Linked DNA regions of Homo sapiens: region 1 is linked to region 2. A link means that fine-mapping ties the variant in region 2 to the expression of a gene that starts in the linked region. Tissue or cell type: whole blood. Region 2 holds a variant in brackets; the other region holds the start of a gene. All regions are shown on one strand. Distances are between the middles of the regions.

Region 1 (5,145 bases), 190 kb after region 2:
AAATTACTTAAGTCTGTTCAAGCCCTCTTAGACCACTATGAAATTAATGTTAAATCCTAGAAGTATATACCACCTGATGATGCTGATTTAGACTACAAAATTGTTAATCAGTAAGATTTTTCTATTTTTTTTGAGACAGGGTCTCCCTCTGTTGCCCAGGCTGGGGTGCAGTGGCGTGATCTCAGTTCACTGTAGCCTCAACCTCCAAGGCTCAAGTGATCTTCCTGCCTCAGCCTCCCGAGTGGCTGAGACTATAGGTACGAACCACCACTCCTGGCTTTTTTTTTTTTTAATTTTTAGTAGAGATGGGATTTCCCATCTGTGTTGCCCAGGCTGGTATCGATCTCCTTGGGCTCAAGGGATCCTCCCACCTTTGCCTCCTAAAGTGCTGGCATTACAGGCGTGAGCCACTGCGCCCGGCCAATAAATAAGATTTTCAAACTGTCACCTTGTAGAGGAAGAAAAAAATAGACATTAATAAGCCAGCAAACACATTTCCTCCAAATGCCAGCAAAAAGATCTCAATCAACAATGGTTGTCAATTGCTCTAAGAACCAACGAGAAAGGGGCTAGGGCTGCAGGCTACCAACAGATCAATGCTACAGTATTAACCAAAAAGCCACGCCAGCTGTGAGGGCAAAAGCTCCAGGAGTGCAGCTTTGGAACTACCTAGCTCAGGTACATTACCTCCCAAACAGAAAAGACAATCATTTTCAGCAGCCTGACGCCTCAAAACTGTGGGAGGAGGGGTATCCCCTCCACACCCCATCCCCTCGACCTCATGACTCATTCAGCCCGTTACCCACTCTGCGGGGATCACCAATCGCCAGGTAACCCTGCTCGTCGCTGGCTGATGTAACCGGCGGTTGAGGGCGAAGAGGGGGCCGCTGGCGGGGCTGGGGGACAGCGCAGCCGCAAAAGCCATCCACCGGGAGGCCTCGCCCGGTCTGCGCCTGCGCACTAAAACCCACGGGACTTTCCGAACCCCCACCTCCAGCGATCAGAGCCCACTGCGCCTGCGTGTGCTGCCACTCTTAATTCCATTAACACACACACACTCGCACAGGAAAAACTGAGCAGGGCCTCCACTACTCATGCACTGCCACCAGACGAGCCCCTCCACGAACTAGTCCCTGCCCTAGGTGTTCCCGGGGCGCGCGAATGCCCGGGTCATGAGACCGAGCATCCACGCGCACGTACGGGAAGGGGGCGCGCGCGCCAGAGGCTCCCGGCCCGCAGTCCTCCCAGTCATCCCTCCTTCCGTCCCCCCGCCCACCTCGCTCCCCTCCTACTGGCCAGACCGGGAAGGGGGAGGCAGCAACCCGCTCCCAAGTCCCTCCCTCCCCATTGGCCAAACTGTGGGCCGCGCGCCCCCCTCCATTGGCTACGGCCGGGGACCCCTTCCCGCAGCAGACTCCCCATTGGCTGAAGCCGGGGACCGCGAGACCCTTCGTGGTAATGGAACCGGGGACCCCGATCAGCTCCTTGCCCCCCCCCAACTCCCCGTTCCGACGGCGCCGGCGGGATGCGCCCCGCCTCCCCTGAAGGCCGGGGCTGCGAGCCCTGACTAGGCCCCGAGAGCCGAGCGCGGCCCCTCAGTGCTCCGGTGGCCGCCCGGGGACCCTTTCCGTCCGACCTGTTCGGACCTGAGGGGGCCCTCCCCCAGCTTCACGGGGACTCCCCACCCAGCCGGTGCCCCTGACGGTGCCGGGTCGGGGTCCGCCCCACCGGAACCGAGCCACAGCCTCTGGGTGGCCGCGGCTCCCTCGCCCGGAGCCCACCCTTCTCACCTGGCGCTGCCGATGGCGGCTGCCCCCGGCCTCTCCTGGTGTTGCTGCGGCGGCGGCGGCTGCGGCGCCAAGATGCCTTCGGCTCCCCGGCGGAGCCCGCTCCCGGCAGCGGCCACAGGCCCCAGGCAGGGGGAGGCGGCCGCTGGAGGCCCGGGAGGAGCCGCAGAGGTGGCCAGCGGCCCCGGGAGGCCGCCGTTGGGAGGGCTGGTGCCCCCGGGGGGCCGACGGGCCACGGCCTGTTGCGTGGGGGGCGGCTGCTGGGGCTGGGAGGGCTGTTGTAGCGGCTGAGGCTTCAACATGATGGCAGCGTCCGGAAGGGGAATTAGAGAGAAGGGAGGGAGAGAGGGGGCCGGGGCTGGGGCCCCGCTGGAGAGCGCGGGAAGCGAGGGGGATCGGGCAGCCGGGGCCCGCCGTGGGCGGGCGGGGGGAGCCCCGCGGTGTCGGGGGTGGAGAGAGAAGACCGCGGCGCGAGGAAGCGCCGCGAGGCGGAAGGGGAGGGGGTCTCGCGGCTGGAGGAAAGCGAGAGGGCGCGAGCCGGGCTGGCGCGCGTGCGCGTCGCCGGGGAGCGGAGAGGGAGGAGCGCGCGGGTGGGAGCTCCCGGGGGGGGGGGGGGGGGGGGGGGGCCAGGAGCGAGCAGTGGCGCGAGGTGCCGCGCACACCGGCGCGGTTAGCTCCCGGCGGGAAAGTGGGAGAGAATCAAGTCGGTGAACCTCGCACCCCTAGCCCTGGGAGTGGGTAAGGAGCGGCGCGGGCGCTCACGCGCGCCAAGGATTTAGGGTCTTAAGGTCTCAAACCGCCTTAGAAGCCGGCGGCCGCTGTCGCTTCACAATGAGCGTGTGAGGCGCAGGGGGAGGAGCCGAAGGCGCCAGAGGAAGGGCCGGCCTCTCCGCCCACGCCGTCGCTGCGTCGCGATGCCTCCGCGGGAGTGTGAGGCGGCACGTCGTGCGTGAGGCTCTTCCGCCACTTGGCGGCCCGTGGGCAGAGCCTTAAGTGCCAAGAAAGTCTCCGGGACTGGACCACCCGAGCCACTGCGCTTTTAGGCAGGTGGTAGGTTTCGCAAGGAGCTACCCTCCACCTTGTTTGCTTTAAGTAAAAGACTGATGAGCATTAGTGATTCGTTTGAGCGTGTTGATCTTTGCAGATAAATTTACGCCTCGTCCTAAATTATTTCAGATTTTTGTGATTTTGACCTAAATTGTTCCTCCATGCCCGAGAATGAATCTTTAAACTGTAATAACAAAGACTGAAGGCCAAAGTTCCGAGTTCAAAATCCTCCACCCGACCCTGCAATGAAGGCAGCTTCATTCATTCAAAATGAGTTGGGCATTGGAGTATTCAGTTAGTTGTTTTGGACACAAGGATAATTAAACTGCTTCCTGCTCTGGAGGAGTTCATGCTAGTGGTGAATTCAGAGAATTTGACGAGATCTAGTAGGTGAAGCACAGAGGACTACAAGAGCAAATGGGAGTGACACCTAATCTTAATCCAGTTTTGGGAGACCCAGATAAGGGACAGGAGGGCCGGGCGCAGTGGCTCATACCTGTAATCCTAACATTTTGGGAGTCCGAGGCAGAAGGATCGTTTAAGGCCAGGAGTTTGAGACCAGCCTAGGCAACAAAGTGAGACTTTGTCTCTACAAAAAAAAAAAAATTTAAATTATAAAAAAAAACTGATAAGAGGGCAGGGGGAGATGGGTTTCTAGGCAGGGAAATAGGATATGACAAACTAAGAAAAACTCAGCTTGTCCTAAGCATAAAATTAAAGGGGGGAAGAGGTAGCTAATCTGGGATCAGGTTTTAAAGGCTCCCAAGTCTTGTAAGAGACACGGACATTATCCTCAAAGCAGTGGGGAGCTTATTTAAGAAAGTGAAAAGAGGCTGGGCATGGTCTGTAATCCCAGTACTTTGGGAGGTTTGAGGTCAGGAGTTTGAGATCAGCCTGGCCAACATGGTGAAACCCTGTCTCTACTAAAAATGCAAAAATTAGCTAGGCGTGGTGGTGCATGCCTGTAATCCCAGCTACTCAGGAGGCTGAGGCAGGAGAATCACTTGAACCAAGGAGGCGGAGGTTGCCGTGAGCCCAGATCGCACCACTGCACTCCAGCCTGGGTGACAGAGCAAGACTCCTTCCCCCCAAAACAAACAAAAAAACAAGTGAAAAGAGGTCAGATTTGCATTTTTAAAGGTTTACTCTTTGCAACGTGGAGAATGGAGTGGAGCTGTTAAGTCCATGTGGTCTTAATCCCAGCGAAACTCTCAATGTCTCAATCTCTTCGCTCTAAATGTTAGCATTGGAACTCTTCCCAGCCCCTGCACCAAACACATGCACACCTAGCTACAACACTGCCTTACTTTTTGGGTAATAGTCCTTCGCCCTGCCTCGCTCCTGCCTTCAGATGTGCTAGTTTCCCCTCCTGTGTGCTCGCCGAGCAATTTATCCCACTGTATTCTAACAGCTCCTTTAATTCTGTCTTCCTGCTAATGTCAGCTCCCTAAGGGTTAGGATCTTGACTTATTTCTTGCTCTGCAGTACTCTAGCACACTGCAGGCACTCAATGAAATATCTGTAAGGTGAGTGGATCCAAATGATGTTTTTTTGTTTGTTTTTGAGATGGAGTTTTGTTCTTATTGCCCAGGCTGGAGTGCAATGGCGCGATCTCGGCTCACCACAACCTCCGCCTCCCGGGTTCAAGCGTTTCTCCTGCCTCAGCCTCTTGAGTACCTGGGATTACAGTCATGCACCACCACACCCGGCTAATTTTGTATTTTTAGTGGAGACGGGGTTTCTCCATGTTGGTCAGGCTGATCTTGAACTCCCGACCTCAGGTGATCCACCCGCCTCGACCTCCGAAAGTGCTGGGATTACAGGCATGAGCCACCACGCCCAGCCCAAATGGTGTTTTAAAGGTCATCATGTCTCCTGGGTTCCCTAACAAACACAGTCCAGCTTTTTCCTGGCATTACCTGGACCACCTGATGCCATGCCACCTCTCTACCCTCATTGACAGATTGTGAGCACTGAGCACTCTAACCCCCTTCCATCTACCCCATCCTGCTCCACACTCAAATTCTGAGTTTTAGCCCCATGAAACTTCTTTCTCCATAGCTTGCCTTGCCCTTGCTAGTGGCAGCTAATTTGCATGGGGTCTACAGCAACCTCAATTCTTGCCTCCTCAGAAGAAAGAATTCCACCAAGGGGCATAAGGCAGAGGGAGAGACAGAGGCAAGTTTTAGAGCAGGAGTGAACGTTTATTAAAAAGTTTTAGAGCAGGAATGAAAGGAAGTAAAGTACACTTGGAAGAGGGCCAGGCGTGAATGACTTGACAGATTCAAGTCCCTGGTTTGACCTTTGACTT
Region 2 (5,145 bases):
CACAAGGTTGTAAGTTTTAGGGTAATGATGTCAAACCTCCAAGATACGGCATTACACGAAAAAGCAAAATACAAACAGTGCGTGGAATTATACCATTTATATAAAAACGAAGTGGCTGCAAATTTGCTTAAACGTGCATTTGCTTATAGAAGTGTGGAAAATCTTTGGGTAACTGATAAGAATGACTGTGACTTTGGACAGGAATTTGGTGGTTAGGGAACAGGTGGGAGAGAGATTTTTCTGTTAAAATCTTTAGTACCTTTGGAATTTTGAACCACAGGAATATACTGCCTTTTCCTTTTCTTTTTTTTTAGGCTGGTCTCAAACTCCTGGGCTGAAGGTATCCTTCTGCCTTAGCCTACCGAGTAGCTGGGATTACAGAGTACTGCCTATTAAAATATATATATCTATATATATGTGTGTGTGTGTGTGTGTGTGTGTGTGTGTGTGTGTGTGTGTGTAGCTGGGCACAGTGGCTCATGCCTGTAATCCCAGCACTTTGAGAAGTGGAGCCGGGTGGATAACTTGAGGCCAGGAGTTTGAGACCAGCCTGGGTAACATAGCTAGATCTCATCTCTATAAAAAAAAAATTTAAAAATCACCTTGTATCTCATAAATGTAAACAACTATGATTTGTCAATCAAAATAATATTAATTAAAAAATTTTTTAATTCTAACTGATATCACACCAAATTAAAAAAAAAAATTAAAAAGGCCGGGCACATTGGCTCACACCTGTAATCCCAGCACTTTGGGAAGCTGAGGAGGGTGGATCATCTGAGGTCAGGAGTTCTAGAACAGCCTGGCCAACATGGTAAAACTCTGTCTCTACGAAAACTACAAAAGTTAGCCGGGCGTGGTGGCAGGTGCCTTTAATCCCAGATACTCAGGGGGCTGAGGCAGGAGAATCACTTGAACCTGGGAGGCAGAGGTTGCAGCGAGCCGAGATCATGCCATCACACTCCAGCCTGGGGGACAAGAGAGGGACTTTGTGTCAAAAAATAAAAATAAAATAAAATAAATAAATAAATAAATAAATCGTAGGCCAGGTGAGGTGGCTCATGCCTATAACCCCAGCACTTAGGGAGGCCAAGGCTTGTGGATCACTTGAGGTCAGGAGTTTGAGACTAGCCTGGCTAACGTGGTGAAACCCCGTCACTACTAAAAATACAAAAATTAGCCAGGCGTGGTGGCGAGCACCTGTAGTCCCAGGTACTCAGGAGGCTGAGGCAGGAGAATTGCCTGGACCCACCACTGCACTCTAGCCTGGGTGACAGGGTGAGACCCTGTCTCAAAAAATAAAAATTAAGTTTAAAAAATCTTAAGAAGTAAGAAGACTACTTCCTGATTTCAATATGTGTTACAAAGCTACAGTAATCAAAACAATGTGGTACTTGGCATAAAGACAGAGATATAGACTAATGGAATAGAGAGCCCGGAAATACATCCTTACATTTATTATTATTATTATTATTATTATTATTATTATTATTATTATTATTTTTGTTACAAGATCTCACTCTGTTGCCCAGGCTGGCACACAGTGGTATGATTGTAGCTCACTGAAACTTCAAACTCCTGTGATCAAGCTATCCTCCCACCTCAGTCTCCCAAGTACCTGAGACTAGATGTGGGTGTCACCATGTCTGGCTATTTTTTTTTTTTTTTTTGGCAGAGACCTAGTTTCACTACATTGCCCAGGCTGGTCTCAAACTCCTGGCCTCAAAGGATCCTCTCACCTCTGCCTCCCAAAGTGCTGGGATTACAGGCGTGAGGCACCATGCCTGGCCCACCCTCACATTAATGGTTAAATAATCTTTGGCAAGGGTGCCAAGACCATTCAGTGGCAGAAAAAGCAGTATCTTCAACAAATGGTGTTGGGAAAACTGGCTATTCACATACAAATAATGCAGTTAGACCCTTATCATACACCGTACACACACACAAAAAAATTTTTTTGAGACGGAATTTTGCTCTTGT[C/A]GCCCAGGCTGGAGTGCGATGGCGCGACCTCGGCTCACCACAACCTCCACCTCCAGGGCTCCAGGATGCTCCTGCCTCAGCCTCCTGAGCAGCTGGGATTACAGGAGCGCACCACCAAGCCTGGCTAATTTTGTATTTTTAGTAGAGACGGGGTTTCTCCATGTTGGTCAGGCCGGTCTCGAACTCCCGACCTCGGTGATCTGCCCGCCTTGGCCTCCCAAAGTACTGAGATTACAGGCATGAGCCACCATGCCTGGCCATATACAAAAATTAATTCAAAATTTAAAGACTTAAATATAAGGCCTAAAACTATAAAACGCCTAGAAAAAAAATATAGGGAAAAAGCTTCATGTCACTGAACTTGACAATGATTTATTAGATATGACACCAAGAAAGGCACAGGCAGCCAGGCACGGTGGCTCATGCCTGTATTCCCAGCACTTTAGGAGCCGAGGTGGGCAGATCACTTGAGGTGAGGAGTTCAAGACCAGCCTGGCCAACATGGCAAAACCCTGTCTGTACTAAAAATACAAAAATTAGCTGAGCGTGGTGGCACATGCCTGTAATCCCACATACTCAGGAGGCTGAGGCAGAAGGATCACTTGAACCCAGGAGGTGGAGGTTGCAGTGAGCCAAGATCGTGCCACTGCAATCCAACCTGGGCAACAAGAGTGAAACTCTGTCTCAAAAAAAAAAAGAAAGAAAGAAAGAAAAGAAAGGCACAGGCAACAATAACATCAAAAAAAAGGTAAAATAGGACTACATCAAAATTAAAAACCTCTGTGCATCAGCCGGGCGTGGTGGCTCACGCCTGTAATCCCAGCATTTTGGGAAGCTGAGGCAGGTAGATCACCTGAGGTCAGGAGTTCAAGACCAGCCTGGCCAACATGACAAAACCCTGTCTCTACTAATAAAACAAAAATTAGCTGAGTATGGTGGTGAGAGCCTGTAGTCCCAGCTACTTGGGAGGCTGAGGTAGGAGAATCGCTTGAACCTGGGAGGCAGAGGTTGCAGTGAGCTGAGATCGCACCATTGCACTCCAGCCTGGGCAACAAGAGTGAAACTCCATCTCAAAAACAAAACAAAACAAAACAGAACTTCTGTGCATCAAAGGACACAGTCAACCCCGTGAAAAGCAACCTATGGAATGGGAGAAAATATTTGCAAATCATATATCTGATAACAGGTTAATACCCTAAATATTTTTTTAAAAAACTCCTACAACTCAACAACAACAAAACAACCCAACTTAAAGAATGGGCAGGCTGGGCATGGTGCCTCATGCCCATAATGCCAGTACTTAGGGAGGCAGAAGCAGAAGGATTGCTTGAGCCCAGGAGTTTGAGGCCAGCCTGAGCAACATAGCAAGACTCTAGACTCTAAAAAGATAAATAAAAATAAATTTTTAATGCGCAAAATACTTGAATAGGCATTTCTCCAAAGATGATATACAAATGGCCAACAAATGTATGAAAAGATGCTCAATACCACAAATCCTTAGGAAAATGCAAATCAAACCCATGAGATACCACTCTATACCCACTAGAATGGTTATGATCAAAAAACAGGGCCGGGTGCAGTGACTCACGCCTGTAATCTCAACACTTTGGGAGGCCAAGGCAGGAGGATCACCTGAAGTCAGGAGTTCGAGACCAGCCTGGCCAACATGGTGAAACCCCATCTCTACTAAAAATACCAAAAAAAAAAAAAAATTAGCTGGGCATGATGGCATGTGCCTATAATCTCAGCTACTTGGGAGGCTGAGGCAGGAGAATTGTTTGAACCCGGGAGGCGGAGGTTGCAGTGAGCCGAGATCACATCATTGCACTCCAGTCTGGACAACAGAGTGAGACTCCGTCAAAAAAAAAAAAAAAAAAAAAAAAAAAAAAACAGAGAATAACAAGCGTTGGGAAGGACATAGAGAAATTGGAGCTCTTGTTCTCTGTTGGTGGGAATGCAAAATGGTGCAACCTCTATGAAAAATAAGATGGCAGTTCCCCAAAATGTTAAAAACAGAACTACCATGTGATCTGGCAATCCCACTTCTGGGTATATATTTAAAAGAATTAAAAGCTAGAATTTTTTTTTTTTAACAAAGTCTTGCTCTGTCGCCCAGGCCGGCAGGCTGGAGCTCAGTCTTCCTCCTCCCAGGTTCAAGCGATTCTCCTACCTCAGCCTCCCAAGTAGCTGGGATTATAGGTGCACACCACCACACCCAGCTAATTTTTGTATTTTTGGTAGAGACAGATTTTCACCATGTTGGCCAGGCTGGTCTTGAACTCCTGACCTCAGGTGATCCACCCACCTTGGCTTCCCAAAGTGCTGGGATTACACACGTGAGCCACCGTGCCTGGCCTAAAAGCTAGATCTTGAAGACGTAGCTGCACTCCCATGCTCATAGCAGCATTGCTCACAGTAGCCAGGGTGGAAGCAACCCAACTGGCCATTGAAGGATGAGGGGATAAACAAAATATGGTATATCCATATGTCTTAGTCTGTTTTGTACCACTATAACAGAACTCCACAGACAGGGTAATTAATAAGAAAGAGAATTGTATTATTATTATTTTTTAGATGGAGGCCAGCAGATCACTTGGGGGGCAGGGGATGGAGTCTTGCTCTGTCACCCAGGCTGGAGGGCAGTGGTGTGATCTCGGCTCACTGCAACCTCCGCCTCCTGGGTTCAAGCAATTCTCCTGCCTCAGCCTCCTAAGTAGGTGGGATTTCAGGTGCCCACCGTGTTTTGAGTAGAGACAGTGTTTCACCATGTTGTCCAGGCTGGTCTCGAACTCCTGACCTCAAGTGATCTGCCGGCCTCAGGCTCCCAAAGTGCTGGGATTACAGGCATGAGCCACTGTCCCTGGCCAGAAAAAGAAATTGTTAAAAATACACTTCTGGAGCCTGGGAAGTCCAAGCTTGGGGGCCTGCATCTGGCAAGGGCCTTCTTGCTGTGTCAGCCCATGGTGGAAGGCGGAAGGGCAAGAAAGCATTTGCAGGAGACAGCAAGAGAGAGAGCTGAACTTGCTTTTATAACAACCCGCTCTGGCAATAACGACATTAATCCATGCATGAGGGCAGAGTCCTCAGGGCCTAATCACCTTAACAGTCCAGCTGAGACTGGAGAATAGCAGGGGGAATTGGAGGTTGGATAGAGGGTGGAATGAG

Evidence for each region. PIP is the estimated chance that this variant, and not a neighbour inherited with it, causes the effect.
Region 1: it holds the start of ATXN2L, and the variant in region 2 is fine-mapped to the expression of ATXN2L in whole blood (INTERVAL, PIP 0.90).

Annotation. Positions count from the first base shown.
Region 1 is chr16:28,820,204-28,825,348 of GRCh38, reverse strand. It overlaps ATXN2L (ataxin 2 like), which reads right to left and starts at 2,350. Exons shown (of 22, transcript NM_007245.4): 1 at 1,791-2,350. The coding sequence starts at 2,089. It overlaps LOC124903672 (a long non-coding RNA gene), which reads left to right and starts at 1,307. Exons shown (of 2, transcript XR_007065042.1): 1 at 1,307-1,455. RefSeq lists a silencer at 1,144-2,293 and enhancers at 2,614-2,823, 2,335-3,071.
Region 2 is chr16:29,014,733-29,019,877 of GRCh38, reverse strand. No RefSeq gene overlaps it. Among named protein-coding and RNA genes, the nearest start is that of LAT, 32 kb to the right of the region's middle. The variant C/A (reference allele first, on the strand shown) is at 1,981.